Regions from separate parts of the Homo sapiens genome. Here region 2 is linked to region 1. The links come from fine-mapping of genetic effects on gene expression. A gene starts in region 1. The other region holds a variant in brackets. All regions are shown on one strand. Distances are from middle to middle. Region 1 holds the start of TPST2 (tyrosylprotein sulfotransferase 2). Region 2 overlaps TPST2 (tyrosylprotein sulfotransferase 2).

What was found. PIP is the estimated chance that this variant, and not a neighbour inherited with it, causes the effect.
Region 2: its variant is fine-mapped to the expression of TPST2 in whole blood (TOPMed, PIP above 0.99). The same link has a PIP of 0.9 or more in T cells, blood mononuclear cells, lung, monocytes and nasal epithelium.

What each region holds. Positions count from the first base shown.
Region 1 is chr22:26,580,965-26,596,649 of GRCh38, reverse strand. TPST2 (tyrosylprotein sulfotransferase 2) reads left to right here and starts at 6,518. Exons shown (of 7, transcript NM_003595.5): 1 at 6,518-6,597. It also overlaps a transcript of CRYBA4 not described here. RefSeq lists enhancers at 3,718-3,867, 6,164-6,303, 6,820-7,320, 15,041-15,685 and silencers at 6,414-6,783, 6,794-6,973.
Region 2 is chr22:26,520,753-26,536,437 of GRCh38, reverse strand. TPST2 (tyrosylprotein sulfotransferase 2) reads left to right here. Exons shown (of 7, transcript NM_003595.5): 4 at 1-150; 5 at 3,693-3,743; 6 at 8,176-8,224; 7 at 10,171-14,442. The coding sequence ends at 8,217. Among named protein-coding and RNA genes, the nearest start is that of TFIP11-DT, 16 kb to the right of the region's middle. The variant T/C (reference allele first, on the strand shown) is at 10,679.

The DNA of each region.
Region 1 (15,685 bases):
TTACCTTCAAGGTCTTATTGTTGGTAAGATGCACTATGATTTTATAATTCCAGGAGGAAAAAGAGAAATAATACCAATCAAAACATAACACAATTGTTTTCTGATCACTCAGAATTTTTATACTTATTGAAAGAATTATTTTCAACTTATTTAGATTTAACAGATTTTTTTTCAGTGTATCAATCTGATAAGTCCTATAAAAGGTAAACATACTAGAAATTCATCAGTTAAGTCAGTTCTAAAACCTCTTTGCGGCCAGGCACAGTGGTTCATGCCTGTAATCCCAGCACTTTGGGAGTCTGAGGCAGGTGGATCACTTAAGGTCAGGAGTTTGAGACCAGCCTGGTCAACATGGTGAAGCCCCATCTCTATTAAAAATATAAAAAATTAGCCGGACATGGTGGTGCACACCTGTAATCCCAGCTGCTCTGGAGGCTGAGGCAGCAGAATAGCTTGAACCCAGGAGGTGGAGGTTGCAGTGAGATCGTGCCACTGCATGTCAGCTTGGGCGACAGAACAAGCTTCCATCTCAAAAATAAAATAAAATAAAAACTCTTTGCATTGATGGTCCAGATTCTGGCCTGGCACAGTGGCTTATACCTATAATCCCAGTATTTTGGAAGGCTAAGGTGGGAGGATCACTTGAGCCCAGGAATTTGAGATCAGCCTGGGCAAGATGGTGAGACCTTACCTCTACAAAAAATAAAAAATAAGCTGGGTGCAGTGGTGCATGCCTGTAGTCCCAGCTACTGTGGAGGCTGAGGCAGGAGGATCCCTTGAGCCCAGGAGTTCCAGGCAGCAGTAAGCTATGAATGTGCCACTGCACTCCAGTCTGGGGAACAGAGCAAGACCCTGTCTCTAAAAACAAAAACAAGGCCATACATGGTGGCTCACGCCTGCAATCCCAGCACTTTGGGAGGCTGAGGTGGGAGGATCACTTGAGCCCAGGAGTTTGAGACCAGCCTGGGCAACACAGGGAGACCCCATCTCTACAAAAAATTAAAAACAAAACACAGAGTCCAGGTCTTCTGGATCACTTTCATCTCACAGGCATTTTTTTTTTTTTTTTTGAGACGGAGTTTTGCTCTTGTTGTCCAGGCTGGAGTGCAATGGCCCGATCTTGGCTCACTGCAACCTCCGCCTCCCAGGTTCAAGCGATTTTCCTGCCTCAGCCTCCCGAGTAGCTGGGATTATAGGCATGCGCCACCATGCCTGGCTAATTTTTTGTATTTTTAGTAGAGACGGGGGTTTTTCCATGTTGGTCAGGCTGGTCTCGAACTCCCAACCTTACTTGATCCTCCTGCCTCGGCCTCCCAAAGTGCTGGGATTACAGGCGTAAGCCACTGCGCCTGGCCTCACAGGCATTTTAAAATGTGCATATTAGCATCACTGAAACAAGATATGTACACTTGGCAGAATAAACACCAGAAGAAAATAACAATTAAAGTCATTTTATATTTAATGTATTGTTTGCTAATGAATTTATGAATAAACAAAATGCCTTGTAATAACAAAGGAGGACATATAAAATTATAAGCAAAAAATAAAGAATAGAGACTAAAAGAAGCAAGTTAAAGAAAATAACATGTAGTAAGGCTGAGAGTGAGTGTGACTTAGGAACCATAAACCTGGTGTTCCTTCCATGGGTCCTAGTTTCAACATATCTCTCAAAACATGAGCATCTCACCACCTGGAGCAGAATTTCAGAGCTTAAAGATAAGCCACACTTTTGCCTTCAAACTAAAACTAAGGTTTCATTTCATCAGGTGCTCAACCCCAGAAATCATGATGAGTCCAAGTTTAATATTGACGGAAACCAGTGAAGCTGGACTTCCAAGGGGCTATGTTGCCTTCAGCCTTTTCGGGGGCTTCTCCAAGGCAATTTTGACTGCATGGGTTTGGCTCTAAATGCTGGCTTTTTGTTTGTTTGTTTTGGTTTTTGTTTTTTGTTTTTTGTTTTAGCTAGAGTCTCACTCTATCGCCCAGGCTGGAGTGCAGTGGCGCAATCTCAGCCCACCACAACCTCCACCTCCCGGGTTCAAGCAGGAGTGTCCCTAAGCACTGGCTTTAAAATACAATGCCTGAGGAAACTGGGGACTTCATATTGTTTCAAAGCTAGATAGATCCCAGCTTGTGAATCTTTGAGTCTCAGGCCTTTGGAAAGGCAAAGCATCTTGATTATGAGAGAGCGGCTCTCATTCTCATCGACAAGAGGCAACCCGTAATCTTTTAGACATTGGAGCATAAGCCCAACGCCGGCAGTGTGTATATGTGGGGTGGAGGCAGGAGGATCACCCAGAGGCATTGAATGCTTTTGTGCCAGCATGAGATGCTGATAAATACACAGCAACTGGGCTCTGGGGAAAAGACATGGTTCCAGGGTGCCCTGCAGAGGTTCTAAAGAGATGAGCCTTCTTAGAGCCAAACTGCCACGACAGCCAATAGCCTGGGTCAGATACTTAGGATCAACGAATGCTTTGTGAAGCCTGGATCCCCAGCTAGGAACAATAATACTACACCCTTCCAGCAGGAGAAGAAAACCTGCCCACTTACTTTTACTTCCTGCCCACTGCCGAGCCACTGCCTTCTATCAGTGTACTAGAAAGGGTGAGAGAGACCTGAGTTTGCATTCCAGCTCTGACAATTACCAGCTATTATCCTTGGCCAAATCAAATTACCTGCTGGAGCCTCTGTTTCCACATCTGTAAAATGGGAGTAATGATAATAAAACACCAAAAGCTTGGAGAGGGTAAATGATCAGCTTGAATATAATAATTATAAGGTGTTTAGCACATAGCAAGCACCTGAATAAAGTGTTTTCTGTGGTTGGGCATGGTGGCTCACACTTGTAATCCCAGCACTTTGGGAGTCCAAGACAGGTGGATCACTTGAGGTCAGGAGTTGGAGACGAGCCTGGCCAACATGAAGAAATCCCATCTCTACTCCAAATACAAAAATTAGCCAGGCATATTGGCGCATGCTTGTAATCCCAGATACTCAATAGGCTGAAGCAGGAGGACTGCTTGGACCCAGGAGGCGGAGGTTGCAGTGAGCCGAGATCACACCACTGTACTCCAGCCTGGGCAACAGAGTGAGACTCTGTCTCAAAGAAATAAATAAATAAAATAAAAATAAATAAAATGGTTTTTAAAAAAATTTTAATTAAAAAAAAAAAGTAGAGACAAGGTCTCACCATGTTGCCCAGGCTGGTCTCAATCTCCTGGGTTCAAGCTATCCTCCCTCTTCAGCCTCCCACAGTGCTGGAATTACAGGAGTGAGCCATTGAGCCTGGCCTAAAGTGTAATTATTGACATAACATCAACCTCATCCTCTTGAATGTCAGAGCTGGAAAGAATTTTTGGATCAATGTGTATTATGCTACATCTATTCTTCCTGCTTTTGATAAATATTCTTCCTGCTTTTGATAAAACCTCTTAAGTACTGGGTTTTGCCTAGATGCTGGGAAGATAGGTTGGGGAGGAAGACAGAAGAGGTATCTGCTCTAGGTGTTCCCGGCTGAAGATGCAGACAGGAGGAATGAATTATTTTGTCTGCCTTCAAAGTCACATCAAATTCCTGGGCTGCACAGTCTGGTGTCTGGTCCACCACGATGTCCTGAGGGGCAATTAGCCTTCCTCAAGGAGGTGACAGACAGATTGAGACCTGGAAAGGTTCACTGAGCTAGGGGTACTGAGAGAAGTCCCAACCTAGACAACAAGACGATCATTCTGATCCTCCTCCTTAGCCTCTCAACTGAGATCTGCCAATTCTGTCTTCCAAACCTCTCCGGAACCAAAACACCCCCTCCATGCCCACATCCCCTCTCTGGGTTCCTGAATTATTTCAACACCCTCCAAACCAGTTTCTGCCTGTTTCTTCTTCACACAGCACCAGAGGGATCTTTGCAGAAAGTCAGGCTCCCCATGCCCTTCCCCTGTTGAACACCTTCCCTGTCTCTCCATCACTGCAAGAGAAAAGCCCCGACTCCTTCCCACAGCCCACAAAGCTCTGCAGCATCCAGCCCTGCAGACACCTCTGATCTCTTCTCTCACCTCCACCACATCCTGTCCACTCTGCACTTCATGCAAGGCCCCAGGCTCGCTTCCTTCCTGCTAGGCCTTTGCACCTGCTAGATTCTGTGACCAGTGCACTCTTCCAAGGATCCCCACCCATGCCTCTGGCATGTATACACACGCCTGGCCCTCCCTCCCTGGACCAGGTTAATCTCTGCTGCTCCTGCCTCATCAGTTACAGGTGCTCACTTTACTGTGAAGGCTTGTTGAAGGATCTAGCTTCCCCAACTTGGACCTTTGTCCCCCTGTTAGCTGCTGAATCTGTGCCTAGCATAGAGAGCTCAGGAAATGCCATTGCTAGAATGTTATTAAACAAATGCCCCCATTCACACCTCTTCCTCTGAACTCCATTTTTTTCATCCACAAAAGGACATTATAAAACACCCTGCTGGTGTTTAATCTATGTGTCTATCAAATCAGTCATATGAAGTCTCTAACATGCACGCAATAAACACTATGTAATGTTGTTGTATTGTTTCCAGACCAGTAATGGCTGGCTCCATGGAGGCAGCTTTATCAGTCCCAGCATTTTCCATAAGGCAAGCACTAACTATTTATTGGACACATGAATGAATTAATGAATGACCAATGAATGAACATGTGGCTGGCCATGGGCAAATTACTTAATATCTGTGTGCCCTAGTTTCTGTGTGTGTGTGTGTGTGTGTGTGTGTGTGTGTGTGTGTACTCACCCAGGATGGAGTGCAGTGGTGCGATCTACACTCACTGTAACCTCTGCCTCCTGGGTTCAAGCAATTCTCGTGCCTCAGCCTCCCAAGTAGGGGGAATTACAGGTGAGCAGCACCATGCCCTGCTCATTTTTTTTTTTTTTTTTTGAGACGGAGTCTCACTCTGTCGCCCAGGTGGGAGTGCAGTGGTGCGATCTTGGCTCACTGCAACCTCCACCTCCTGGGTTCAAGCGATTCTTCTGCCTCAGCCTCCTGAGTAGCTGGGACTACAGGCATGCACCACCATGCCCAGCTAATTTTTGTATTTTTAGTAGAAACAGGGTTTCACCATATTGGTCAGGCTGGTCTTGGATTCCTGACCTGGTGATCCACCCGCATCGGCCTCCCAAAGTGCTGGGATTGCATTTTTTTTTTTTTTTTTGAGACAGAGTCTCACTTGTTGCCCAGGCTGGAGTGCAGTGCAATCTCAGCTCACTGCAACCCTTGCCTCCCAGGTTCAAGCGATTCTCCTGTCTCAGCCTCCTGAGTAGCTGGGACTACAGGCATGTACCACCACACCCGGCTAATTTTTGTATTTTTAGTAGAGACAGGGTTTCGCCATGTTGGCCTGGCTGGTCTCGAACTCCTGACCTCATGTGATCCACCCACCTTGGCCTCCCAAAGTCATTTTCGTATTTTTATTAGAAACGAGGTTTCACCATTTTGGCCAGGCTGGTCTTGAACTCCTAGCCTCAAGTGATCCGCCCGCCTCGCCTCCCAAAGTGCTAGAATCACAGGTGTGAGCCATGCACCTGACCCAGAAATTTATTTTAAACAGATAATATATACATATGGCAAATAGAAAGTTAAAAGAGAACAAAGAACCAAAGTTCACAATGAAAAGTAAGCCTGCATGCCTACCCTACCTTTTCTTCAGGTATTCAATGCACAAGCATACGATGCATAGATAGCTCTATTATTTTTCCAATTTTACACATGAAGAAGCAGAAGCACTGAAAGGTTATAGAACTTAGACTGTGCTAAGATTTATCAGTCAGGAGTTTTGTTTCATTTGTGTATATCAGGGCTTCACAACCTTTACGCTATTCGGCATTTTTTGCAGGGTTTTTTTTGGGGGGGTAGTGGCAGGGCTGGGGGTGGAAAGGGTGTCCTATGCACCGCAGAATGTTTAGCAGCATTCCAGGCCTCTACTCACTAGATGCCAGTATCGCCTCTCCACTTCCCCAGTTATGACAACCAAAAATGTCTTCAGAGATTGCCAAATGTCGTGGTGGTGGAGGGATGTCAGGGCAAAATCCCTGATAAATGGAGAGAATGTGGTATATCCACAAAAACTCCCTCCAAAACCACTGGTGTGTATGACTATACATCAGACCACCCCTTTCTTTTTTCTGTGTTTTACACAAACAGTAGCACGAATACACCCCGCTGCGGGTCTACTTTTCTTTTCTTACACCACTTTTTGGTGATCATTCCACTTCATTGCTTACAGGCAGAAAGGAACTTCTCTTAAACAGAACTGACCGGGAGAAGTGGTGAGCTGCCCGTCCTAGGGGTAAGCCAGCGAGCAGACAGGGGCTTCCAGGGCGGCGGGGCGGGGTTCCCGGGGCGAGCCTCCGGGAAACTTCCCGACCAGCCTCTGCTCACCTCGCGGTCCCGAGGCGCAGTGGAGGGGATGGGGCGGGGCGGGGCGGGGCCGCGTATCGGGCCCGCCCCCGTACGTCACGTCGCCGCGGCCCCGCCCCCGCGCGGGCACCTCCCCCTTCCCCGGCTGGGGCGGCTGGAGAGCCGGGAGTCGCTGGGTGCGTGGGGCTGCCTCGCCGCGTCTCGCCACGGTAGGTGGCCCTGGGGCGGCAGGGGGTGGCCTCGGGTTGCAACCGGGGGCGCGGGCTGGGGGCCGTGCGGGTCGGCCTCGGGCGCCTGGCAGCCCTCCGTCCTGGCGGCTGCCTCCGGGCCCGGCGCGACTGCTCGGGCTCCGGGGCTGGGAGCTGGGATCTGGGAGGCAGGCAGGCGGCGCGGGCGCGCGGTTCTGGGATCCGCACCCGCTCGGCGTCCCGAGCGCTTTCCGCGGGGTGCGGCATCCACCGGGCCCCCGTTACCACGCTTCCCGCTTCGGACCCAGCGCCTGGGAGACGCTCAGCGTCTGTTGGCGGGGGGACTGGGGGGGAGGGCGGCGCGTCCCCGCCTCCGGAGTCCCCAACCTCGCCCAGGCGCGCGGGGACCCCCAGGCGGGCGCCAGGGCGCGTGGAAGTTAACTTGCAGCAGCCGTGGAGTTGCGAGGAGCGTCAGAAGTGGAGGCGTTGGGGGCGGAAATCGTCGGCTGGGGAGGTGGGCGCTGGGAGCACTGGGTTGGGGAGCCCTAGTGAACTTGGAGGTCACTGGTGAGGAGTGGAGAGGAATTTGACCCGAGGATCCCACCCCAACCCCCAACCTCCCTCCGTAAACTCCGCTTCTCGGTGTGAGCTGGATGGGAGGTGCCCGGAAAGCCGGGACTGGGACTGGTAGCAGGGGACTGGGAGCATGGGCTCAGAGGCTGAGCACGCCTGACCTGGCAGAGTCGTTGTTAGATGGGACAGAGGTCGAGGTCTGGCATTCCCACTCAAAGGCCCGTTCCCTAGGGAAGGAACCATCCACCTCAGCAGAGTCATTAGAAAGAACCGTGCCTAACCTCTTGCCCCCTTCCCCTTTTACAGATGGGGAGACTGAGGCTTGGAGAGGTCACCTGCCCGTGACCCTAGGATTCACAGCTAGGATGTGGCAGAGCTGAAACTCACTCACAGGCCTCCTGACTTAATGTCCTTGGGGATGTTGAGGAGGCGGGCTGTTGAACTCCTACTTATCCTACAGAAGCCCCCTCAAGCAGCACCTCCTCCGGGAAGCCTTCCCTGGCATTCTCCTGGTATTGTTGGGTGCTTCCTGTTTTGAACCCCACAGAGTTAGCCAGCCCTTTTTCTCACTTCCCAACAGACATTCCCTTGCATGTCTGTCTGCCAGACTGGGCTGTGGGTGGACACCTCTCCCTAGCCTCCATGTGATAACCCTTTCATCTCAGCAGGGTGGTCTGCTGGCGAGGGTAGGCTTCTGGATTTGAACAGATCTGTGACACACCGGATTTAGTAGTGATGTGGCCCGGGCGACGCATTTTCCTTCCGATCTAGTCTCAGTTTCCATAACTGTAAAGCTGGGTTTATTTCATTGTCCTAAAGGAACTGTTGGGTCATTTCTGAATCCCCCCACCCCACTGAACCCCAATTGTACTGTTGTTTACTTAATATACATCTTTGTATCACCTGATTTTTAAAAATCTCATGCAAACTTTTTTTATAACAGCTTTGTTGAGATACAGTTCACATGCCGTACAATTCACCCTTTTAAAGTATATGTTTCCGTAATTTTTAGGATGTTCAGAGTTGCATAGTCATCACCACTGTCTAATTTTAGAACATTTTTATCATGCCCAAAAGAAAGGCTGTTTCATGGTCACTCCCCAATCCTTTCTTCCCCTATCCCTTGGCAACCACTTACTGACTCTCAAATTCTCTATGAATTTGCCTGTGCTGGACATTTCATATAAATGCAGTCATATACTATGTGGCCTTTGGTATCTGATGCTTTTCACTTCAGAGAATGTTTCTAAGGTTCAGCCCCTTGCAGCCTGTATCAGTACTTCATTCCTTTTTTTTTTTTTAAGTACTTCGTTCCTTTTTATGGCTGCATAATATTCTATTATGTGGATATACCACATTCTATCCATTTGTCAGCTGATGGATGTTTGGGTTGTTTCTAACTTTTGACTATTATGAATAATACTGCTATGAACATTCATGTACAGGTCTTTGGACATACATTTTCAGTTCTCTCAGGTATATTTCTAGGAGTGGAATGATTGGGTCGTAAGGTAACTTTAGGTTTCACCTTTAAATATTTTTTTAATTTATTTTATTATTTATTTATTTTGTAGAGATAGGGGTCCCACTATGTTGCCCAGGCTGGTCTTGAACTCCTGGTCTCAAGCGATCCTCCTACCTCAGGCTCCCAAAGTGCTGGGATTATAGGTGTGAGCCACTGCACCCAGGTTTAACCTGTTGAGGACCTGCCAGACTATTTTTCCAGAACAGCTGTACCATTTTATATTCCTACCACCAGTGTATGAGGGTTCCAATAATCTTAAATACATTTAGTGTTCTCTGAAGCAGTCATAACCCTTGAAATCACTGGCTTTGATGTGTTAGTTGTAAACTATTTTCAGGCCGGGCACGGAGGCTCACACCTGTAATCCCAGCACTTTGGGAGCTAAGGTGGGCAGGTCACCTGAGGTCAGGAGTTCGAGACCAGCCTATCCAATATGGTGAAACCCCGTCTCTACTAAAAATACAAAAATTAGCCAGGTGTGGTGGTGCGTGCCTGTAACCCCAGCTACTTGGGAGGCTGAGGCAGGGGAATCGCTTGAACCCAGGAGGCAGAGGTTGCAGTAAGCCAAGATCAATCACACCACTGCACTCCGGTCTAAGTGACAGAGCAAGACTCTGTGAAAATACCGAAGCAAGGAGAGGCAGTGTAGGACCCAGTGGCTTACAGAGCCCACCCCAGGAGCTGGCACACAGTATTAGGAGGGGGTGAAAGGAAGGTGGAAGCTGCTCGGATCTTCCCATCCCGGGCCAGCCTGGAGCCCCCTTGCCAGCTGAGGCTTTGTGGAGGCCAGGGAGACCCTCCATGGCTCTCCTAGACCATAACTGAAGGGGAAGACTTGTCCCTTGACCCCAAAATTAAGTCTGGTCCTGCCCACACCCTATCTGGAACCCCCCACGCTACTCTGAAGGTGACTTCTCTGGGTGGCCACCGGAGTGTCCTATGTGAGTTGCTGCTTATTTCAAGAGGGGCCACCCCCCAGGCCTGAGATGAGCAGTCCTGAGTTACAGACGCTTCATCTGTGAACATTCTGCACACACAGACATCTTCCCCCTCCTCTCAGCACCTTCCCCACCCCTAGGACCCTGTGTTTCTTCCTTCACACTCTTTGCTTCAGCAAGAGGCTGCACCGGAAGAACTCAGGTCAGAACCCAGCGTTTTCACAGAGGAAGAGTTCCTTGAGAAGGTAGGTAGTTCACCCCAGCTTGAACCTGTACTCTGCTGGTTCAGGAACTTAGACCAGCACTTATCTGCGTGTTCCAGTTTCCTGACAACTTGGTTCATCTGGGCAGCTGCTGTTTGGGAATGGTGTTAAGACCACGCCTCCCAGCCGCTGTATCTGGCACCTCGTGACTTTATTCTTTTTTGCATACTTGCCTTTCCTTGTCCTTTTAAAATCCTGAGTTCCTGTGCATTAAGAAAGCAGCCTAGGCCGGGTGCATGGCTCATGCTTGTAATCCCAGCACTTTTGGAGGCTGAGGTGGATGGATTGGTTGAACCTAGGAGTTTGAGACCAGCCTGAATAACATAGTGAAACTCCATCTCTACAAAAAATACAAAAATTAGCCAGGCGTGGTGGTGCGCGCCTGTATTCCCAGATAGCCGGGAGGCTGAGGTGGAAGGATCGCTTGAGTAGAGGTTGCAGAGAGCTGAGATTGCACCACTGCACTCCAGCCTGGGCAACAGGGCGAGATTGTAGGGTATTAGGTCAGTACATAAAAATCAATTAAATATTAAAAAAAGAAAGAAAGAAAGCAGCCTAGGGACATGGAGACGGGGTGGGAAGGCTCCCTAGGCAAGGAACTGCCGCTCTCTGGGTGTCAGTGTACCCTACTGAGGAATGGGCATAGACCATTCAGAACTAAGATGTGGTGGTGCCTTGGGATCGGTTAGGCTGTTGAAATGTATTATTATGATTATTATTATTATTATTTTTGAGACGGAGTTTCGCTGTGTTGTCCAGGCTGGAGTGCAGTGGCGTGATCTCGGCTCACTCCAAGCTCTACCTCCCGGGTTCACGCCATTCTCCTGCCTCAGCCTCCCGAGTAGCTGGAACTACAGGCATATGCCTGACTAATTTTTTTGTATTTTTAGTGGAGACAGGGTTTCCCCGTGTTAGCCAGGATGGTCTCGATCTCCTGACCTTGTGATCCGCCCGCCTCGGCCTCTCAAAGTGCTAGGATTACAGGTGTGAGCCACCACGCCTGGCCTGAAATGTATTATTGATGTGACTTTGTGGGTGTATTTGTAGTAAGAGTGGCAGATCAGATGTAGCTTCACAGCCTGGGGTTGGTGACCAGAATGTACTTTCTTGGAAAAATGCATGTGGCTTGTGTGGCTTTGATGCCCCACGTGGCACCAGGGAAGCTTCTCTGGGTAGCAGCAGCTCCTGCTCCCCGACTTGCTGCCTATTCCGATTGCTTGCAAGTCCCCGTGCCCTCTGAGGACCTGCATGTACCCGGTCTGGGGCCCCTCCAGAGATCTGGGATGACTGTCCCCTCCCGTCACTTCTCAGGTCTCCCCCACCCTTTACTGCAGCCAGAGGAGGATTTGTGGGAATGATTCATTCAGAGCTGCTTGAGATCTTGGCCAGCCCCCAGAAATTGCAGGGAAGGACCTCAGAGGCAGTGCCCACAGGCCCTAGGGAACGTCTGGGGCTGATGGCCCAGGGAGAAACTTCTTATCCTATGTGCTCAGATGGCGGGCAGCCAGCCCGTCTGCCGAGTGACTTTGTATCAGTAAGACTTTTGACTGGGGCTTCTGCAGCCAGAAAGCAGGCAGGCAGCCCAGAAAGCAGGCAGTGTGATAGGGAGCTAGGGGGCACTGGCCTGTATTAGAATCCAGGTGCTCCACATCTTTCTGGGGCTGTTGGCTGTTTCTCTATGCTTTGGTTTTCTCATCTGTTGAATGCAGGTATAAGTAGGACCTATCTTCCAGGGGTGCTGGATGGAAGGGAATGGTGGTAAAGCACTTATCTTGGTACCAGGCAAAAGCTGAGGCCCTGGGGTTAAACAGGCTCTTTGGAATTTTGAACATGTTCGTTTGTGAACCTTAGTTCCTCCGTCTGTCAAAAGGCAACAATTATAAATACAGCCAATATCAACAGGGCTTACTGGGTGCCAGACACTGTTCTAGGCACTGTATGTGGTTTAACTCATTTAATTCCCCCAACAGCCATATGATGTGAACAGGCTGAGGCTCAGAGAGGTGAAGTAATTTGCACAAGGTCACCCAGCTAGGAAGTGGGAGACATAGGATTTGGATCCAGAATCTTTCTTTTTTTTTTGTTTTGGGTTTTTTTGTTTGTTTGTTTTGAGACAGGGTCTTGCTCTGTTGCCTAGGCTGGAGTGCTGTGGCACAATCATAGCTCACTATAACCTTGAACTTCTGGGCTCAAGCGATCATCCCACCTTGGCCTCTCAAGTGCTGGGGTTACAGGCGTGAGCCACCACACCCAGCCCAGACTCTACACTCTGAATTCTCATTCTTACTCCTCCTTGATATCCCATCTTAAGGCCTAGCACATAGAAAACACACAGAAAACATCAGGTGTTGTTATAACTATTCTGAATAAATATTGATCCGCTCTCCATCCCTCTGTCCACACTCCTTCCCTGATGATCAGAACATGCAGGGCTCTTGGCCTGTAAAGTCCAGATTCCCACCCACTCCTCCCTACTCGCTCTGTTCCTCCCACTCCCACACTCTCATGCACAGCAGAGCTTGGAAGCAGCCAAGTCCCAACTCTTCCTCCAAATTGCTGTGTGACATTGGGCAAGGAGCTTCCCCTCTCTGAGCCCCAGTTTCCGTACATGTTAAATGGGTGAGTTCACCCTGCTGCATGTTTTTTGTTGAGCTCCCATGCTACGTGTGTGTTTTTAAAATTGAGTCAACATTCAAACATTTCTAGAGAAAAATTCTGATTTCTCATTTCTCTTGGAAACCCAGGAGCTTAGGCCAAACTGGAGTGGCCTGAAGCTGCCCCTTAGGTGGCCTGGACTCTCCCAGTCACTGTGGTTCCCCCTACTCCCCATTGTCACGTAAGTGCGGCTTTTCAGGGGATCTGAGGATGCCTTAGGCCTGCCTCGTGCCACCTGAATAAGCAGTTCCATTGCTTTAAAAACAATTTTTTTTTTTTGAGACGAAGTCTCGCTCTTGTCGCCCAGGCTGGAGTGCAATGGCATGATCTTGGTTCCTTGCAACCTCCGTCTCCTGGGTTCAAGCTATTCTTCTGCCTCAGCCTCCCAAGTAGCTGGGATTACAGTCGCATGCCACCACGCCCAGCTAATTTTTGTATTTTTAGTAGAGACAGGGTTTCACCATATTGGCCAGGCTGGTCTCGAACTCCGCCTGCCTTGGCCTCCCAAAGTGCTGGGATTACAGGTGTGAGCCATCGCGCATGGCACAATTTTTTTTTTTTTTTGACACGCTCCAAGAGCCCTTCCAGCTCTGTGTTTCTAGGATATTGGAGGTTGTCTGAGGCCTCCTGATACCCTGTCTGCCATTTTAAGCCCTCAAGGCATTTTTTTTTTTTTTTTTTTTGAGATGGAGTTTCCTTCTGTCGCCCAGGCTGGAGTGCAGTGGTATGATCTTGGCTCACTGCAACCCCTGCCTCCTCGGTTCAAGTGATTCTCCTGCCTCAGCCTCCTGAGTAGCTGGGATTACAGGTGCCTACTACCATGCCCAGCTAATTTTTGTATTTTTTTGGTAGAGACGGGGTTTCACCCTGTTGGCCAGGCTGGTCTTGAACTCCTCACCTCAAGTGATCTGCCCGTGTCAGCCTCCCAAAGTACTGGGATTACAGGTGTGAGCCACTGTGCCTGGCCTTTTATTTGTTTTGTTCTTTTTTTTTTTTTTTTTCCTTTTTGAGATGGAGTCTCGCTCTGTTGCCCAAGCTAGAGTGCAGTGGTGTGATCTCGGCTCACTGCAACCTCTGCCTCCCAGGCTCAAGCGATCCTCCCACCTCAGCCTCCCAGAGTGCTGGGACTGGAGGTTGTCCCCATTGCATACTCCCTGTGTGGGGAGTTCCTGTCTCTGGGCGCTAGGGTGCCGTGCCACCTTACCTGGTACAGGCCCCTACCTAACTGTTGTTCCCCACAGTGAGATATTTGTTATTGACCACGCCATTTCCCAGAAGCCAAGGCTTGGAAATAGTCACTTTCCCGAGGTCACACAGGCCTGAGATTCAGCACCAGGACTCAAAGCCCATCTGCCCAACTTCAGAGGCTGTCAGTGGAAGTCATGCCTTGATCCCAGCACTGCACGGATAGCCACTGAGTGACGTCTTCCACTAGAATAAGGACACATGAGAACCCTCAACTGGATGTTGGGGTGCAAGATTTAAGAAGCAACGAGGTCCTAGTTGTCCTGGAGTTTACGTTCTGGTGGAGGCATCAGGCAAGAAAAAGTAACCCACATCTCTGACGTGAGATGTCAGCCTATGAAGTTGAGTACCCAGGCCTCTCAGATCTTAACATGCATATGATCCCCTTGGGGAACTTGTTAAAGTGCAGATTCTGTGTTTTTGGTTGTTTTTGTTTTTGTTTCTGTTTAGATGGAGTTTCGATCTTGTTGCCCAGGCTGGAGTGCAATGGTACAACCTCGGCTCACTGCAACCTCTGCCTCCCGGGTTCAAGCGATTCTCCTGCCCCAGCCTCCCAAGTAGCTGGGATTACAGACACCTGCCACCATGCCCGGCTAATTTTTGTATTTTTAGTGGAGACGGGATTTCACTGTGTTGGCCAGCCTGGTCTCAAACTCCTGACCTCAAGTGATCTGCCTGCCTCCACCTCCCAAAATGCTGGGATTACAGGCGTGAGCCACAGCGCCCGGCTAAAGTGCACATTCTGATTAGCAGGTTTGGGGCAGAGACTAAGACTGTGTTTCTAACCAGTTTCCAGGGGCCTCTGATGGTGTTTGTCTAAAGACCACATTTGGAATAGTGAGGGTCTGGATCAGAAATTGGCAGATTACCACTCATAGGCCACATCCGGCCCGCTACCTGTATTTGTAAATAAAGTTTTATCGGAACACAGCTATGCTTATTTATTGACATTTTGTCTGTGGCTGCTGTTGTGTAACAAAAGCAGAGTGGAGTAGTTGTGATAGAGACCAGAGAGCCCACATTGCTGGCCTTTGAAGAGAAAGTCTGCCAGTTGCTTTTCTAATCATCTTTTGAGTCCCTACAAGTTATAAAACTTTGATTTGGTGAGTGTTAGATGCTGATAAAAATAGTAATGATTGCAGTTAAGACTTGGGTGCTTTCTGGGTACTTAGCTCTTTACGTTTATTTTTCTTAGCTCAATTCTATCATAGGCAATACTACTGTCTCCACTTTACAGGCGAGAAAACTGAATAGAGGCTGGGCCATTGGCCCAGAGTTTGTGGACCAATGAGTAGGTGAGGCCAATTTGAGTCAAGTTGACTGATTCTTATTGGACAGGAGCTTCTGCCTAGAACTTTTTCCCAGAGCACAGAGAGGGTTTAGTTTAGATTTCCTTCTGTCCCAGAGTGTTCTGGTGCCTTCATTTCTTTCTCAATCCATCCTTCTGTTTACTCAACAAATACCTGTGCACCCTGTGCTGGAAGTTTGGGGACCATGCTGGGTTCTGAGAGGATGTGGGGACTAGGATGGGGTCCCAGCCCTGCACATTCCATGGGGTTGGCAGGGAAGCAACACCAGAAGCCACACAGGATGCTAAGCACCTTGGGGGATACTGGTACAGGGACAGGAGGCAGTCAGGGAAGACTTCCTGGAGGAAGGGGTGCAAATGATGCCAGTAGGAGTTAGCTTTGTAGAGGAGGTCAGGAAAGGTTTTCCAAGGAGAGAGAATCACAAGTGCAAAAGTTTGGAGGTGTGAGACTCTGTGGCCTGGTATGTTTGGTAGAGTTCAGGGCACAAAGACTATAGTGTGTGTGTGTGTGCGTGTGTGTGTGTGTGTGTGTGTGTGTGTGTGTGTATGTATGTTGAGGGTTGGGGGAATCGGTGGTGTTATAATAAAATTGGAGGTCAGC
Region 2 (15,685 bases), 60 kb after region 1:
CTCTCCAAGTGGACTGGCCACATCCCTGGGGATGTGGTGCGGGACATGGCCCAGATCGCCCCCATGCTGGCTCAGCTCGGCTATGACCCTTATGCAAACCCCCCCAACTATGGCAACCCTGACCCCTTCGTCATCAACAACACACAGCGGGTGAGTGTGCACCTGTACTTGTGGAAGTGTACTCTTGGGGATATGGGGCTTCTGCAGATGTGGAAACTCCAGCCACCTGAGGAAATGTTCAGTCTCTCAATTCCTGGTCATCTGATTTGTTCCTGTCTGATGGACACAGTGAACTACATGATTGCTTGTATTTCCATTTTGCTTGGGCTGCAGGGAAGCTCAAAGCCAACTGGTAGCCTGTCTCTCATACTCTAACATCTAACAGCAGGCCAGCTTGTACACTAATTTCATCTTATTTCTCTAATTTTATTTACATTTTTACCCCTATTTCCCTGGCTATTTGTTTATCTGTTTGTAAGGCACCTCAAGTCTTTGTTGAGAGGGGGTATAAATAAATAAACTATTGGTCCCTTTCTTGTCTTATAAGGTTTAATGTGGATTTCTCAGACAAATGTGAGTTTAGGGCTGTTTAAATTATGCTTAAAATTCTCCTTAGTTAAGATGGTGAAGGGAAATGACTTTTTTGTTTTGTACTGTTTTGTTTGAGGCATGGTCTTGCTCTGTTGCCCAAGCTGGGTGCACTGGTGCAGTCATAGCTACTGCAGCCTGATACTTCTCGGCTTAAGCCATCCTCTCACCCCAGGCTCCTGAGTAGCTAGGACTGCAGGTGCACGCCACCATGCACAGCTAATTTTAATTTTTATAAAGGCGGGGTCTCGCTACGTTGCCCAGGCTGGTCTAGAACTCCTGGCCGTAAGGGATGCCCCTGCTTCACTCTTCCCAAAGTGCTGAGATTACAGGTGTGAGCCTCCAGTGACTGACAAAATGCTTTTGAAGTGTTAAAGTAGGCTAACACCCACTGGGTAAAAGAACAGTTAACAAGTTGATGGCCTTATTTATACGTTTCCATTACAGCTTCTAGTTTACTTTAAGTGCTGTGTTCTAACTTCCTTATAGGCAAATATTTGAAAATGGGACCCAGGCCTGAGGAAGAGCTTTCACAGCCCTTACTTCATTAAGACCCAGAGTCTTTAATTTAAGCTAAGCTCAGCATTTCTGAGCGTGTGCTGATTTTAGGAAATAAACAGTTATCGTATTGAATCACAACGGAAAAAAGTTAATCGTCTCTTAGTTCCGTAACTCTTCAGTTGGCTCAAGAAGAAAGTTTCCATTTGGTGCTAAAAAGTCATTACCACCTCTCTAGCACTCACTGATCTCTCTTTAACAAAGAGAATTTACTAACGCTGAGCTTTGGGGGCTGTGCCCTTGTAATTGAAGTGTAAGCTTTGTCTGTGGGTCTCGTGAGTTCCTCTTCCTCTTGACATTAGTTGATTTTGCAGACATCTATTTATGGAAATACTCAGAGATTCAACGTACATACCAGCCGACATTGACAGGTGAATGGCTGCAACCCAGATGTGGTTTGTTATTTTTATTATAAATATTATTAATTTTTATTTTATTATTCTTTAATAATAGTAATCTTTAAACCCTACTTATGTGTTTTACATACTTTTATCTGCCTGTGGGTTGTACATGTATTATCAAAATAAAAAATTAATTAACTGGATTAAAAAGATGGTAGTGATCTCACAATCCAGCCCCAGGTGCTTCTCAGAAGCAGAGGCGAGGGCCGGCTGGGGACACTGCAGTAGTGGGCTGGATGTTGCTTACTTCACTGTTCTCAGCCAAGGGCCCAGCAGTGGCTCCTCTGGGGTCTCCTTAAAAGGTGGCTCGCTGCCCCTGGCTTGCCCCAGGCTATGGGTCGGACGTTCCTGGAGTAAAGCCTGACTTTATGTATTTTATAAAACACAAATAATTTTCATGAGCACTGGTGGTTAACATCAACTCTTTGGAGCTTTTTGTGTTTGTTTATTTAAAATGGAAGCTGTCTCTCATTTTCATCCAAAGAGATTTCTTCCCTGGGGCGGTCAACAAGTCTTGGCAAGTGCTAGATCCCTGGTTTAGTTTTTGCCATAGCTTGGCTGTTACTGCAAAGAAAAGTCCTCTCACTAAGCCCTGTGAGTTTGCATGCATGCCTGTGTGCTTCTGTGAGTGCTGTGGACCCTGTGTGTTCCAATAATGGATCCTGGGGCTCAGTAAACACAGTGGCTAAAAGGACATCTATGCTGATGAAATCGTCTCTGCCTGCAGTGTCCCATACGGTAGCCACTAGCCATGTGTGGCCCCTGATTCTGTAACAGGAGGCTAGTCCAAAGTGAGAGGTCCTGTTAGGTGTAAAATACACACTAGATTTTGAAGGCTTAGGACAAAAAAGTATGTAACGTTTCTTATTAGTCACTTTTATATAAATTACATATTGAAATGTTAATATTTTACATAGGCTGGACATGATGGCTCATGTCTATAATCCTAGCACTTTTGGAGGCCAAGGCAGGCAGACTGCTTAGCCTAGGAGTTTGAGACCAGCCTGGGTAACATGGTGAAACCTCATCTCTACTAAAAATATTGAATATTAGCCAGGCATGGTGGCACGTGCCTATAGTCCCAGCTACTCAGAAGGCTGAGGTGGGAGAATCACCTGAGGCTGGGAAGTGGAGGCTGCAGTGAGCCGTGATCGCACCACTGCACTCCAGCTTGGGCTATGGGAGTGAGACCATGTCTCAATAGAAAAAAAAAAAAATTAGCTATATCAGGTTAAATAAAAGATATTGTTAGAATTAATCTCCCTTGTTTCATTTTATTTTAAAATGTGACTACTAGCGGAAAGGCCTGAAATGTTGTGGTTCTAACTTCAGGGCCTTTGCTCTGTTGCCTCTGCCTGGAGTGCTTTTTCTTCTGAGCTTAGCCTACCTATTTTTCCTTGTCGTTTGGGTCTCAGCTCAAAGGTTATCTATTTCAAGAGGCCCTTTTTATTTTTATTTATTCACTTTCTTAGAGACAGGGTCTCGCTCTGTCACTCAGGCTAGAGTGGAGTGATGTGATCATACTTCACTGCAGCCTCAACCTCCCGGGCTCAACCAATCCTCCAGCTGAGGCTGGAGTAGCTCCAGAGCAGCTGGGACGATAAGTGCATGCCACCATGCCCAGCTAATTTTTAATTTTTTAGAAATGGGGTTTCAGTGTGTTTCCCAGGCTGATCTCAAACTGCTGGACTCAAGTGATCCTCCTGCCTTGGCCTCCAGAAGTGCTGAGATTACAGGCATGAGTCACTGCGCCTGGCCCAAGAGTCCCCTCTTGACCACCCACTCAAAAGAAGCCCCCTGGTTACTCCTAATCCCACCTCTTTACTGTACTTTTTTCACAACAGTTCCCATGGTTTGCTATGTCCTTGTTTATCTGTGTTTATTTTTCTTGTATGTTATCTGGTGCCCCCTCTAGAATGGTAGCTCCAGGGGAACAGGAATTTCCATTATCTGGTTAACATCATGTCAACCAGACACAATGCTTAGAATAATGCCTAGAAGAAGAGGAGCTTAAGCAATGTTTGTTGGATGGAGGGATGGGTGGGTGGCGAGGTGGATGGGTGGATGACTGGATGTGTTGGGAATGACTAAATTTTATTTTTTGGCCATTTTCATAATAGTGATATTTCTTTTTCTCTTCCTTAGGTCTTGAAAGGGGACTATAAAACACCAGCCAATCTGAAAGGATATTTTCAGGTTAGAAACCCCAAGGGGAATTCCGAATTCTGTCTTTCTCAGCTATACCACCATCTGGCTGTATGCCCTTAGATGTGTCACTTCTCCACTCTGGTTGATGGTTTTCCCATTATAAAAAGGGGGATGTGAGCTGGCTGCCTGTAATCCCAGCACTTTGGGAGGCCAAGGCAGGCAGATCACGAGGTCAGGAGTTCAAGACCAGCCTGACCAAAACGGTGAAACCCCGTCTCTACTAAAAATACAAAAATTATCCGGGCGTAGTGGCACACACCTGTAATCCCAGCTACTTGGGAGGCTGAGGCAGGAGAATCGCTTGACCCTGGGAGGCAGAGGTCGCAGTGAGCTGAGATCACGCCGTTGCACTGTAGCCCGAGCGACAGAGCGAGACTCCATCTCAAAAAATAAAAATAAAAAATAAAGGGCTGTGGGGATGCGTGCTGGACCAGAGGGTCTCTAAGCACTGATCCAGCTGGGGCCACATCTCAGTGGCCCTTCTGCCAGGAAGCAGCCTCTCACTTCGTCTTCCGGCTTGAATGCAGTTGGAGGGACTTCGTGGGGACTTTTTCTTGGGCTTTCTTTCTTGTTGAGACTGGAGTGCAGTGGTGTGATCATGGCTCACTGCAGCCTCAATCTCCTGGGCTCAAGCAATCCTCTCACCTCAGCCCCTCAAGAAGCTGAGACTACAGACACACACCATCATGCCCGGCTAATTTTTGTGTTTTTTGTAGAGACAGGGTTTTGGCATGTTGTCCAAGCTTGAGTTGTATTATTTATAATAAACAGGTAGCAGTTAGTAAAGTGTTTTCCCTAGTGTCTTGTGAGCTGTTCTAGTGAATTATCAAACCAGAGTGGGGGTTGTGGGAACCTCCAGATTTGAAGTTGGCTGGGAAGAAGTGTGGATAGCCTGCGCACCCCATTGCAGCTGGCATCTAAAGTGGGGCAGTCGTGGAACTGGGCCCTTAATCTGTGGCAGCTGATGCTAAGTAAGTCTGGGAGCTGGTGTCAGAACTGAACTGAATTGTTGAACACCCAGTTGGTATCCAGATAATCAGAGAATTGGTCACTGATATTGGAAAGCACCCATAAGCCAATATCTGAAGGATTAAAACTAGGTCTGCCACACAAAGATCTGGATAGAAAAGGCTTCCCGGCAGAGGGAACTGTAAACGCCTGAAAGTGGGGAGTGTGGCCGAAACCTCTGGAGTGCGTATGCACTTTTGCATTCGTTGCAATTATATTTTTCTTTGTTTCTACCCCAATGTGATTTACAGGAATGTTCATTGCAATTTTCATGTTCAAACTGCCTTGTTTTGCTTTCTTAATATTTTCCTATCTTTTGAGTTTCACCGGCACCATTTTGGATGGCTACGTAGTGTTCTGTGGAATGCATGTGCTACCATTTACTAAACAGCTTCTTCAAGACCATTTCCAGTTTTTACAACATCCAGAATGACATTATGTGCACAGTGGAGGACAGTAGGGAGATGAGGGTTGGAAATAGAGGCTTGACAAAACTTATCTGCAGGGCAGCCCTCCTGAGCGTGGGGGTATGCCATTCCTTCATATTTTGTTCCTAAAAGCAACAAAAACCAGTCCCAGGTCAGCTAGACATCTTGCATATGTCATACACGGCAGGAAGTATAAACTGGCCCAACCCTTTTGTTTTTGTTTTTGTTTTTGTTTTTGAGATGGAGTTTTCCTCTTGTTGCCCAGGCTGGAGTGCAATGCGGTGATCTCGGCTCACTGCGGCTTCTGCCTCCCAGGTTCAAGCAATTCTCCTGCCTCAGCCTCTCAAGTAGCTGGGATTACAGGCACCGGCCACCACGCCTGGCTAATTTTTGTATTTTTAGTAGAAAGGGGTTTCGCCATGTTGGCCAGGCTGGTCTCGAACTCCTGACCTCAAGTGATCCACCCACCTCGGCCTCCCAAAATGCTGGGATTACAGGCGTGAGCCACTGCTCCTGACCCCAACCCTTTTGTAAAACACTTTTAGCCTTGTTGTTCAAGAGTCTTCAAAAGATCTGAACCCTTCCACCTGCTCCTGCTGATTCCTTTTTTTTTTTGAGATGGGGTTTCACTGTGTCACCCAGGCTGGAGTGCAGTGGCGCCATCTCAGCCCACTGCAACCTCCACCTCCCGGGTTCAAGCATGATTCCATTTTTTAGAAGTGAATTCTAAGGGAATGATTCAGTAGAGCTTCAGTACCCAACAGAAGAGAGGCAGAATCAGGATGTGATGTCATTTAAAATACTGCAAAAATTGGAACCATTCTTAGGTAAGCAGTCAGTAAACGGTGGTACATGCACTCCACAGAATATCTGTAGCCATCCAAAATGGTGCTAGTGAAACCCAAATGATGAAAAAATAGTAAGAAAGCAAAACAAAGCAGCTCATACTATACAATTGCAACTAATGTAAAAATGCATATTCAGGTGGACAAAAAAAGGCAACACGCAGGAGTTGGGTGCAGTGGCATGCCTGCAGTCCCAGGTTCTCAGGAGGCTGAGGTGGGAGGATCGCTGGAGCCCCTGTCTCTTAAAAACAACAGCAGCAACAACAACAACAAAAACGAAGGCAACGTGCAAAAATGAGAAGTTTCAGTTTGTGGATAATTCTCCTCATCCCCACTGTGTTGTTCTGCCTACATCATCTTTTTGGTTAAAACAAATACTAAATTAGTGCTCACTAATTCTGGCTACTTTCTTGACGTCAGCAAAAGATAGATCTCTGATTCCCACAAAGGGAGTGGGACCTCTCCCCAAACAACCAGGAAATGCTCAAAAGCCATGGTCCCTAGCTCTCAGATCGCATTAATTTTTTTTTTTTAAATTCAAGGCCAACACAGTGAGACCCCATCTCCCTACAAAAAAGAGAAAGCCTTAGCTGGGTATGGCACATGTGGCACATGTTCGTGCCACTGCACTCTGGCCTGGGTGGCAGAGTGAGACCCTGTCTCATAAAAAAGAATACAACTCAGGTACAGTCAAATGCAAGAAGCGTAGGGTGAGGTATGGGGGATGGGTCACAGAACATCCATGCCCTTTCCCGGCATGACACCCTCCCAGCCTCTCAATGTGTTTACCAACCAGGAAGCTTTCCAAATTCTGTCATTTAGAGATTTCATCATAGAGGCATGACTGATTAAATCATGGGTCATGGGTGATTGCCCAATCTCCAGCTCCTAGCCCCTAGACCCTCTCCCCTCTCCCCTCCCAGGAGGTCAGGGAGGGGAGAAGGCAGGTGGGGCTTAAAGTTCCAACCTTCTGGCTGGGTGTGGTGGCTCATGCCTGTAATCCTAGCACTTTGGGAGGCTGAGGCAGGCAGATCACTTGAGGTCAGCAGTTCAAAACCAGCCGGGCCAACATGGTGAAACCCTGTCTCTACTAAAAATACAAAAAATATTAGCCATTCGTGGTGGCACACGTCTGTAGTCCCAGCTACTTGGAAGGCTGAGGCAGGAGAATTGCTTGAGCTCAGGACGCGGAGGTTGCAGTGAACCAAGATTGCACCACCGCACTCCATCCAGCCTGGGCAACACAGTGAGACTCCGTCTCAAACAACAAAAAAAGTTCCAACCCTCTAATCATGCCTTGGTCTTTCTGAGACCCCTTCCCCTAATCCTGAAGCTATCTAGGGACCCCCAGCCATTAGTCATGTCATTAGCATGCAAAAGATACGTTTTGTTTTTTTTTTGTTTTTGTTTTTGTTTTTTTGATACCTAGTCTCCCTCTGTCACCCAGGCTGGAGTGCAGTGGCATGATCTTGGCTCACTGCAACCTCTGCCTCCCGGGTTCAAGCGATTCTCCTGCCTCAGCCTCCTGAGTAGCTAGGATTACAGGTGCCCGCCACCACACCCGGCTAATTTTTGTATTTTAGTAGAGACAGAGTTTTGCCATGTTGGCCAGGCTGGTCTCAAACTCCTGACCTCAGGTGATCCACCCTCCTCGGCCTCCCAAAGCGCTGGGATTACAGCCATGAGCCATGGCGCCCGGCCAAGATACCCTTATTCCTTCAGAGATTCCAAGAGTTTGGGGAGCTATGTGCCAGGAACTGGGGACAATGAACAAATATTTATTATTATACCACAGCTGAAATGCCATCTTGTAGAGTCCTTTCCTGGCCACCGTTTTTGAAGTAGCACAGATACTGATCACTCATAGCAGCCTGTCATATTGCCCAAGTTTGACATTTTCTTGCATCTGTGCGTGTTCAGTAGGCTTTTTCTTCAACTCGAACGTAAGTTCCGTGATCCTAGGTTTGGGTCTGTCCCGCTCACCACGCTATCCCAGCACCTGGCACATAGTAGATGTACAGTAAATACTACGTGAATAAGCATGTGCATGACTCAGTGATGCTGAGGGGTGACCCTCAATACAGCAAGGCATCCCTCACCTGGCCGTGACCCCTTCTTCTGTGTATTGTCTTTCTCCAGGTGAACCAGAACAGCACCTCCTCCCACTTAGGAAGCTCGTGATTTCCAGGTAAGCCTGTGGACTTCACTGGGGGTTCCCGCTGCTTCTGGGTGGCCCCGGAGCCACTTTTCTGAAAAGCCACTTTTCTGTCCTTCCAGAGCCTCCCTGGGGTAGACATGTCCACTAGGGTGGGCTGACCCAGCCCCATCAGAGGTTTCCATGGTGACAGACTGGGGGTGCTATTTATAGAATCAAGGCTTAGTTTTCTAGCTCTGGATCAAGGACAGGGAGAGGGATTAACGCTGAACCAACCAGAAAAAGGTTTGTCTGACACTGGGGACAGGGCAGGAAGCACCACTATGATGGGGGAGGGGGAGATTCTGGAACCATTTTTGCACAGAATGCTGTCTGCCAGTCTGGCTTCTAAAAACAGCATCAGCGTTGGGCCAGAGCAATTAATGTTCTAATAACAGTCACAAGTCGTTCTGTTCTAAGAATAACCCCCATGGCCGTTGGGCCAGGTACTGGTCCTGTGTTACTCATTTAACCCTCAGCATCCTTGGGAGGCGGATGACATGATCATTCCATTTTACAGAAGAGAAAACCAAAGCACAGAGAAGGAAGGGCTTTGACTTGCCCAAGGCTACACAGCCACCAAGGGACAGAATTCCTCCCAGGTTTGCTTTTAGTGAATGATTTTAAGTGCACATTTATCCATCCATATTCTACTAAGGGGTGGGGAAAGGGATTTTTTTGAACTTGGTAATTCAAAGATTTAAGATCTCCAGGTTTAACTCCCTTCAGCCCCTGTTTTCTTCATCTGGAGAATGGGGATTCATCATTGCCCACCTCTGAGGTTGGCCATGAGATGGCGTGAGCTGGCCCAGGTGGGAGTGCTTGGAAACCGTGAAGTGCTGGGCCCTCGCTGTGGACTTGGGCACTGGAGTTAAGGCTGCATGAGTGAGCTCACTTCCTTCTGTCCCCCAGCCTCTATGATCAGGTTAAAGGAAACCTCAAGAGAGGTTATTTTACATGGAAACACCTTCCAGCTTGGACTCTTATTTTTAGTCTCTGTATCTATTTTTAAACAATCAGCATATGTTTTAGTTTTTCTTTCAATTTACTTTGCTCCAACCTGCAAGGACTCTGTCATTATTAGGGTTCCCATCTTGAGTTGCACTAAGATCCCAGAGTTTTTGTTTTTGAGACAGAGTCTCACCCTGTTCCCCAGGCTGGAGTGCAGTGGCACGATCTCAGCTCACAGCAATCTCCACCTTCTGGGGTTCAAGTGACTCTCGTGCCTCAGCCTTCCAAGTAGCTGGGGTTACAAGTGTGCGCTACCACACCCAGCTAATTTTTGTATTTTTAGTAGAGACGGGGTTTCACCATGTTGGCCAGGCTGGTCTCAAACTCCTGGCCTCAAGTGATCTGCCCACCTCAGCCTCCCAAAGTGCTGGGATTACAGGCATGAGCCACCACACCTACCCAAGATCCCATAGTTCTATTCCAAAGAAAAGAACCCTCTCATGAAAAACAGCTTTCCTCCCTGTTCCTCACTAACTGTTCCCTCGCTGCCTTTCTGCAGATCATTAGTAGAATCCTGGACCTTCTCATTGACAAAAGCAGATTTGTTACTTGTTTTACTGTTTAAATGAGATACCATATAGAGGTGCTTTAGCTGAATCCTGGGTACAGAGTTGGCCTTGAACAAACATGAGTCCTTCTCTTGCCTCCAAGAATTCATCAGTATTTATCACATAATCACTGTCATTTGCTCTGTGTCCATAAGAAAAGTGTATATTTGAGGTCAAGTGGATGCAAGATGAGATGTGGGGAAGAACCCAGGAAACGTTTTTAAATTTAAACTCTCTCTGGCCATCTGGGATGCATTCTTAAAACATTACATGCTTATGCGAATGGATGAAGACAGTATGTTCTGCAATCACATGTATAAATATAAATGATCTATTTCAGAATTGTTACTCTGAGCCTAACACAGTCTTCCCCACTTTCAGATCTCCGCAAATGACTTCATTGCCAAGAAGAGAAGAAAATGCATTTAAGTGGAAATCGGACCTCTAATCCAAGCATATTGCTTGCTATTAATCGCCAAAACAGGACTGCTGATGAGGAATGTATTTGCATATGTTTGCAAAAGCTGAATCATTGAAAACGTACCTTGAAACTCTCTATCTCTGGACACTCCAGGGTAGAGAATGAAGGGTATGGAAGTAGTCCGGCTTTTGAAACTTAGGTATTTTATATTTTTCCCCTCAAGAACTTTTTTTTAAGAGACAGATTTGCCATCCTCCTTAATTTGCAGGACTGCCTTGGTGGCTTTGTTTGCTGGGACAAGGCCCACAACCTGTGCCTCTCCTATTGACCCTTACTTTGAATTCAAAGAATCTATTTAAGAGTTTAATATATGAGGCTTTCTTTGATTCCTCCTCAGTTCTACCTAGTTTCACAGAGGAAAAAAATACTCTTTGAATAAAGTGAACAGAGGCTCATTTGTTTGTGCCT[T/C]ACTTTACTGAATGAATAGGGTTTTTTTTTTCTTTCCATACTGGATTTTGTCAGGTAGATTTGTGATGAGCAAAAAGCTGGAGAATATAGGTGCATGTAAGGCACAGCTGAATTCCTGTGTCAGGGTCCCCAGGGCCACCCCCAGGATCGATGATTGGCTAGAAGAACTCAGAATTCAGAAGAGCTATTATCCTTATGGTTATGGTTTATTACAGCAAAAGGATAAACATTAAAATCAGCAAAAGAGGCCGGGTGGAGTGGCTCACGCCTGTAATCCCAGCACTTTGGGAGGCCAAGGCAGGCAGATCGCCTGAGGTCAGGAGTTCGAGACCAGCCTGGCCAACATGGTGAAACCCCGTCTCTACTAAAAATACAAAAATTACCTGGGCGTGGTGGTGTGCACCTGTAATCCCAGCTACTCAGGAGGCTTGAACCTGGGAGGCGGAGGTTGCAGTGAGCGGAGATCGTGCCATTATACTCCAGCCTGGGTGACAGAGCAAGACTCCATCTCAAAATAAAATCAACAAAAGAAAAAGGTGCATAGGGCAGAGTCCGGGAGAGACCGGCCTCAAGCTTCCAGTTGTCATCTCCTGGTAGAGTCTTACAGACACACTTAATTTTCCCAGCAATGATATGTGACAACACGTACTAAATATTACCAGCCAGAAAGCTCACCCTAGCCTTGGGGTCTAGGTTTTTATTGCATGTCAGTCACATAGGGCAATCACATGACCGACTTTAGTTACTTAATCACCAGCTGCTCCAGAGGTCAAAATGATACAGCATGGCCCAAGGTCCCCACCATAAATCACATTATTAGCACAAACTATCTGGCCTGGTATGGCCCAAGGCCTGAGGTATACAAAGACACCCCTACTTGGGAGGATATTCCAAGGACTTAGAGGTTATCTCCCAGGAGCCCATTAAGGCCAGTTTTTTCTTTGAGATGTGCTGGGTTTGGACACTTCAAGCCTGCTGAGTTAACCCTTATAGCACAGTCCCCAAATGCTGAGGGACCAACTGGGCCTACAATAAGTTTGTATCTTTAAGGGTTAAGGTGTTTTACCCATACCTCCTTGCCTTATATCTCATGATAATATGAGGCTTTTGGAAGGCAGTGACTTATTGTGGCTTGGGGCATGGGTTTTTGGAGTCAGGCTGACCTACTGGCTGTATGGCTTGAGACTTTGTCTCTTCATCTGTAAAATGGGGAAGTTAAAACTTCATGGTGTGTATGTGTGTATGTGTGTGTTTAGACAGAATCTCGCTCTGTCACTCAGGCTAGAGTACAGTGGCGTGATCATAGCTCACTGCAGCCTCGGTCTCCTAGGGTCAGGTGATCCTCCCATCTTAGCCTCCTGAGTAGCTGGGCATGTGCCACCACACCTGGCTACTTTTTAAATTTTTTTTTTTCTGTAGAGACGAGGTCTTTCTATGCTGTTCAGGCTGAACTTCATGGGTTTATTGGGGATGGCTAATGGATGACATTGGCGGTGGTCCTTGATACCAGATAAGCCCTCAGTGTGAAGCAGCTCTTATTTTTCCTTGTCTTGAGATTGCTCTGGAATGGAAATTAGGCTTTTTTGAAGGTGTGACCCTTTTTGTTCATTTCTTCAGCAGTTACTTTTTATTTTTTAAATGTTTGACACACAGTCTCTGATAAATGATCATTCACCAATCACCGATTACTCTCCTTGCTCTGTTAAGTGTGACACTGTCCCTTTGAGAATCTGGCGACAGCTATGTATCCCATCACCACACACCCCAAAAAAAAAATTTATGTCTGGTTCCAGGAGTTACCTTTTATGAGAAGTCCATCTGTGAAGACCCTGGATGTTCAGAGAACTTCCTGGGAAAACACTGAAAGAAAATAAAGAGGCCGGGCCCGGTGGCTCATGCTTGTAATCCCAGCACTTTGGGAGGCTGAGGTGGGCAGATAAGCTGAGGTCAGGAGTTCCAGACCAGCCTGGCCAACGTGGCGAAACCCCATCTACTAAAAATACAAAAATTAGCTGGGCGTCGTGGCGCATGCCTGTAGTTGCAGCTACTTGGGAGGCTGAGGCAGGAGAATTGCTTGAACCCAGGAGGCAGAGGTTGCAGTGAACCAAGATCATGCTAGTACACTCCAGCCTGGGCAACAGAGTGAGACTCCATCTCAAAAATAAAATAAATAAAACAAAATAAAATAAATACAATTTCTGTTTCTAGCCCCTAAGTGGTAGCACTGGGTCTTGTTCCCTGAAAAAAACTAGGCTCAGAATCCACTCTCATTTCATCTCCCCTGATTTGATCTGAAAAGATTTTGTTTAGAGTACTACATGAATATATTATAAAACATGGGACAATCAGAATTGATAGTAAGAAGGCAAGTGGCTCTATTTGTACTTCCTCTCAATAGCTCCTAAAGGTAATGCTACCATTTTCTGTTTGTACATAGTCTTCCAGACTTTAAATTTTTGAACATATAAATATTATCATCTTAAAGACGTATGGAAAAAACCATTTTGAATAGGTTATTCCAAAATGTAATTTAACAGATTGCTCTGGAGGATTGTTTGTTTGTTTGTTTTGGAGACAGAGTCCCGCTTGGTTGCTCAGGCTGCAGTGCAGTGGCACAAACACAGCTCACTGCAACCTCTAACTCCTGCAAACACAGCTCACTGCAACCTCTAACTCCTGCAAACACAGCTCACTGCAACCTCTAACTCCTGCAAACACAGCTCACTGCAACCTCTAACTCCTGCAAACACAGCTCACTGCAACCTCTAACTCCTGGGCTCAAGCAGTCCTTTCACCTCAGCCTCCTGAGTAGCTGGACCATGACACCTACCTAACTTTTTATTTTTTGTAAAGAGGGGAATCACTATGTTGCCCAGGCTGGTCTCAAACTCCTGGGCTCAAGCAATCCTTCCTCAGCCTCTCAAAGAGTTGGGTTTACAGGCGTGAGCCACCGCACCTGGCTCCTGGAGCATTTCTGATGTGAACATGTGCTGATCTAACACCACTCCTTTTACCAGCTGCCTGTTCTAGAGCAAACCATCTTTTTTGAGCATTCCACTTTGGCTAGGCCCTTAGGCTGTTAGCAGTTTTCATCGCTACTGGCAAAGCTGCAGTGGACGTTCTCCTGCACATATAACCTCTTGATGCCACTGTATGAGTGAGTCTCTGCAAAATGAGAAGTAGAATTGCTGGGGTGAAAGGCATACATACTAACTTTTTTGATTAATTCCACCCATGTACCCTGATTTGGGCAGAATTTTAATCTCACTGTGAAATCAGAGCTTTGTTCTAGAGCCTTTCTTGGGGGTTCCATGGATCAGTGGGTCAGCCGTCACTTGTGCCCTGGCCCATCCTCTGTCCAGCTTGGGCAGCATGCATCATTCATTCTGATTCCTTAATTTGCCATATGTGAAAACATGGTAATCTATACATTACTTGGGTGCTATTATTATATATAACTAGCTTTGGAGTCAGAATTAGCGTCTCATCCTGGCTCTACCACTTTCCAACTGTGCGACTGTGGCCAAGTGACTCCCCTTCTCTGAGCCTCAGTTTTCCTCTTCTGTAAAATGGGGGTAAAGGGATAAGAACTATAGGGGGATCTCAGGGGATGGTTAAGAGAAATCCATGAGATAAGCAAACACATTATCTAGTTTAGTAAAGCTAAGCAATGAAGACTTAACAGCCCCATGGTGAAGGCTTAATACATGGTAGCTATAATGATTACTATTAATATTGTGAAATAAAAGGTTGTGATGAACCAACCATATCTTCTCATCAGGATGTATGTTTGTCCAACTGATAGCCATTTGTAGTCATGATCTGGGGTTGGAGAAGGGTCTTCTGCACATGTGCCAGATGGACTGAATATAGATCTTCACTCTCGTTAGCAGCCACCAACCTGGTTGAGCCATCAGGGCCTCCAAAGGGCTTGGCAATTTTTCATTGAAAACAAAAAACAAAAACAAAAAAACTCTTAAACTATGTCTACCCAAAGAATAAATCCTCTACCCTTCCAGGGTAAGGGATGGACAGCTGATGGAATTACAGACCCAGGAAGCTCATGGTTGCCAGTCATTGGGTAGCAGAGGACATCCAGTCTCATTCATTGTTCCACTCATCTCTTGCGGCCCAACCAAGCAGCCCCAAACTGAGTGACTTAAAACAACTTGTTTTTTTGTTTGTTTGTATGTTTTTTTGAGAGCGTTTCACTCTTGTCGCCCAGGCTGGAGTGCAATGGTGTGATCTTGGCTCACTGCAACCTCCGCCTCCTGGGTTCAAGCAATTCTCCTGCCTCAGCCTCCAGAGTAGCTGGGATTACAGGCACCCGCCACCACACCTGGCTAATTTTTGTATTTTTAGTAAAGATGGGGTTTCATCATGTTGGCCAGGCTGGTCTCGAACTCCTGACCTCAGGTGATTCACCTGCCTTGGCCTCCCAAAGTGCTGGCATTACATGCGTGAGCCACCGCGCCTGGCCACAACTTGTTAAATCTCTCAGTTCTAGCCAGGTGCAGTGGCTAGAACTGTAATCCCAGTGGCCTGTAATCCCAGTAAGTTGGGAGGCCAAGGCAGGAGGATCACTTGAGCCCAGAAATTCAAGACCAGCCTGCGCAACATGGTGAAACCCTGGTCTCTAGAAAAAAAAGAAAAAAAAAAAAAGGCACGGTGGCTTGTGCCTGTAGTCCCAGCTACTGGGGAGGCTGAGGTAGAATCACTTGAGCCTTGGAAGTGGAGGTTGCAGTGAGCTGTGATTACACCACTGCAGTCCAGCCCGGGGGACAGAGTGAAACCCTGTCTGAAAAAAAAAAAAAAAAAAAAACCGCTCAGTTTTGGGAATTAACTAGAGTGAGCTGGTGGTTCTCTAGTCAGATGGCAGCTGAAGATTTCTTCATTCATTTGTCTGGTACCTCGGCTGGGATGGTTGGAGCATCTAGAGGCTTAGTGGGGTACCTCTTATGCATGTAGTCTCTCCGCATGGCTAGACTGGGCTTCTTCAGGACGTGG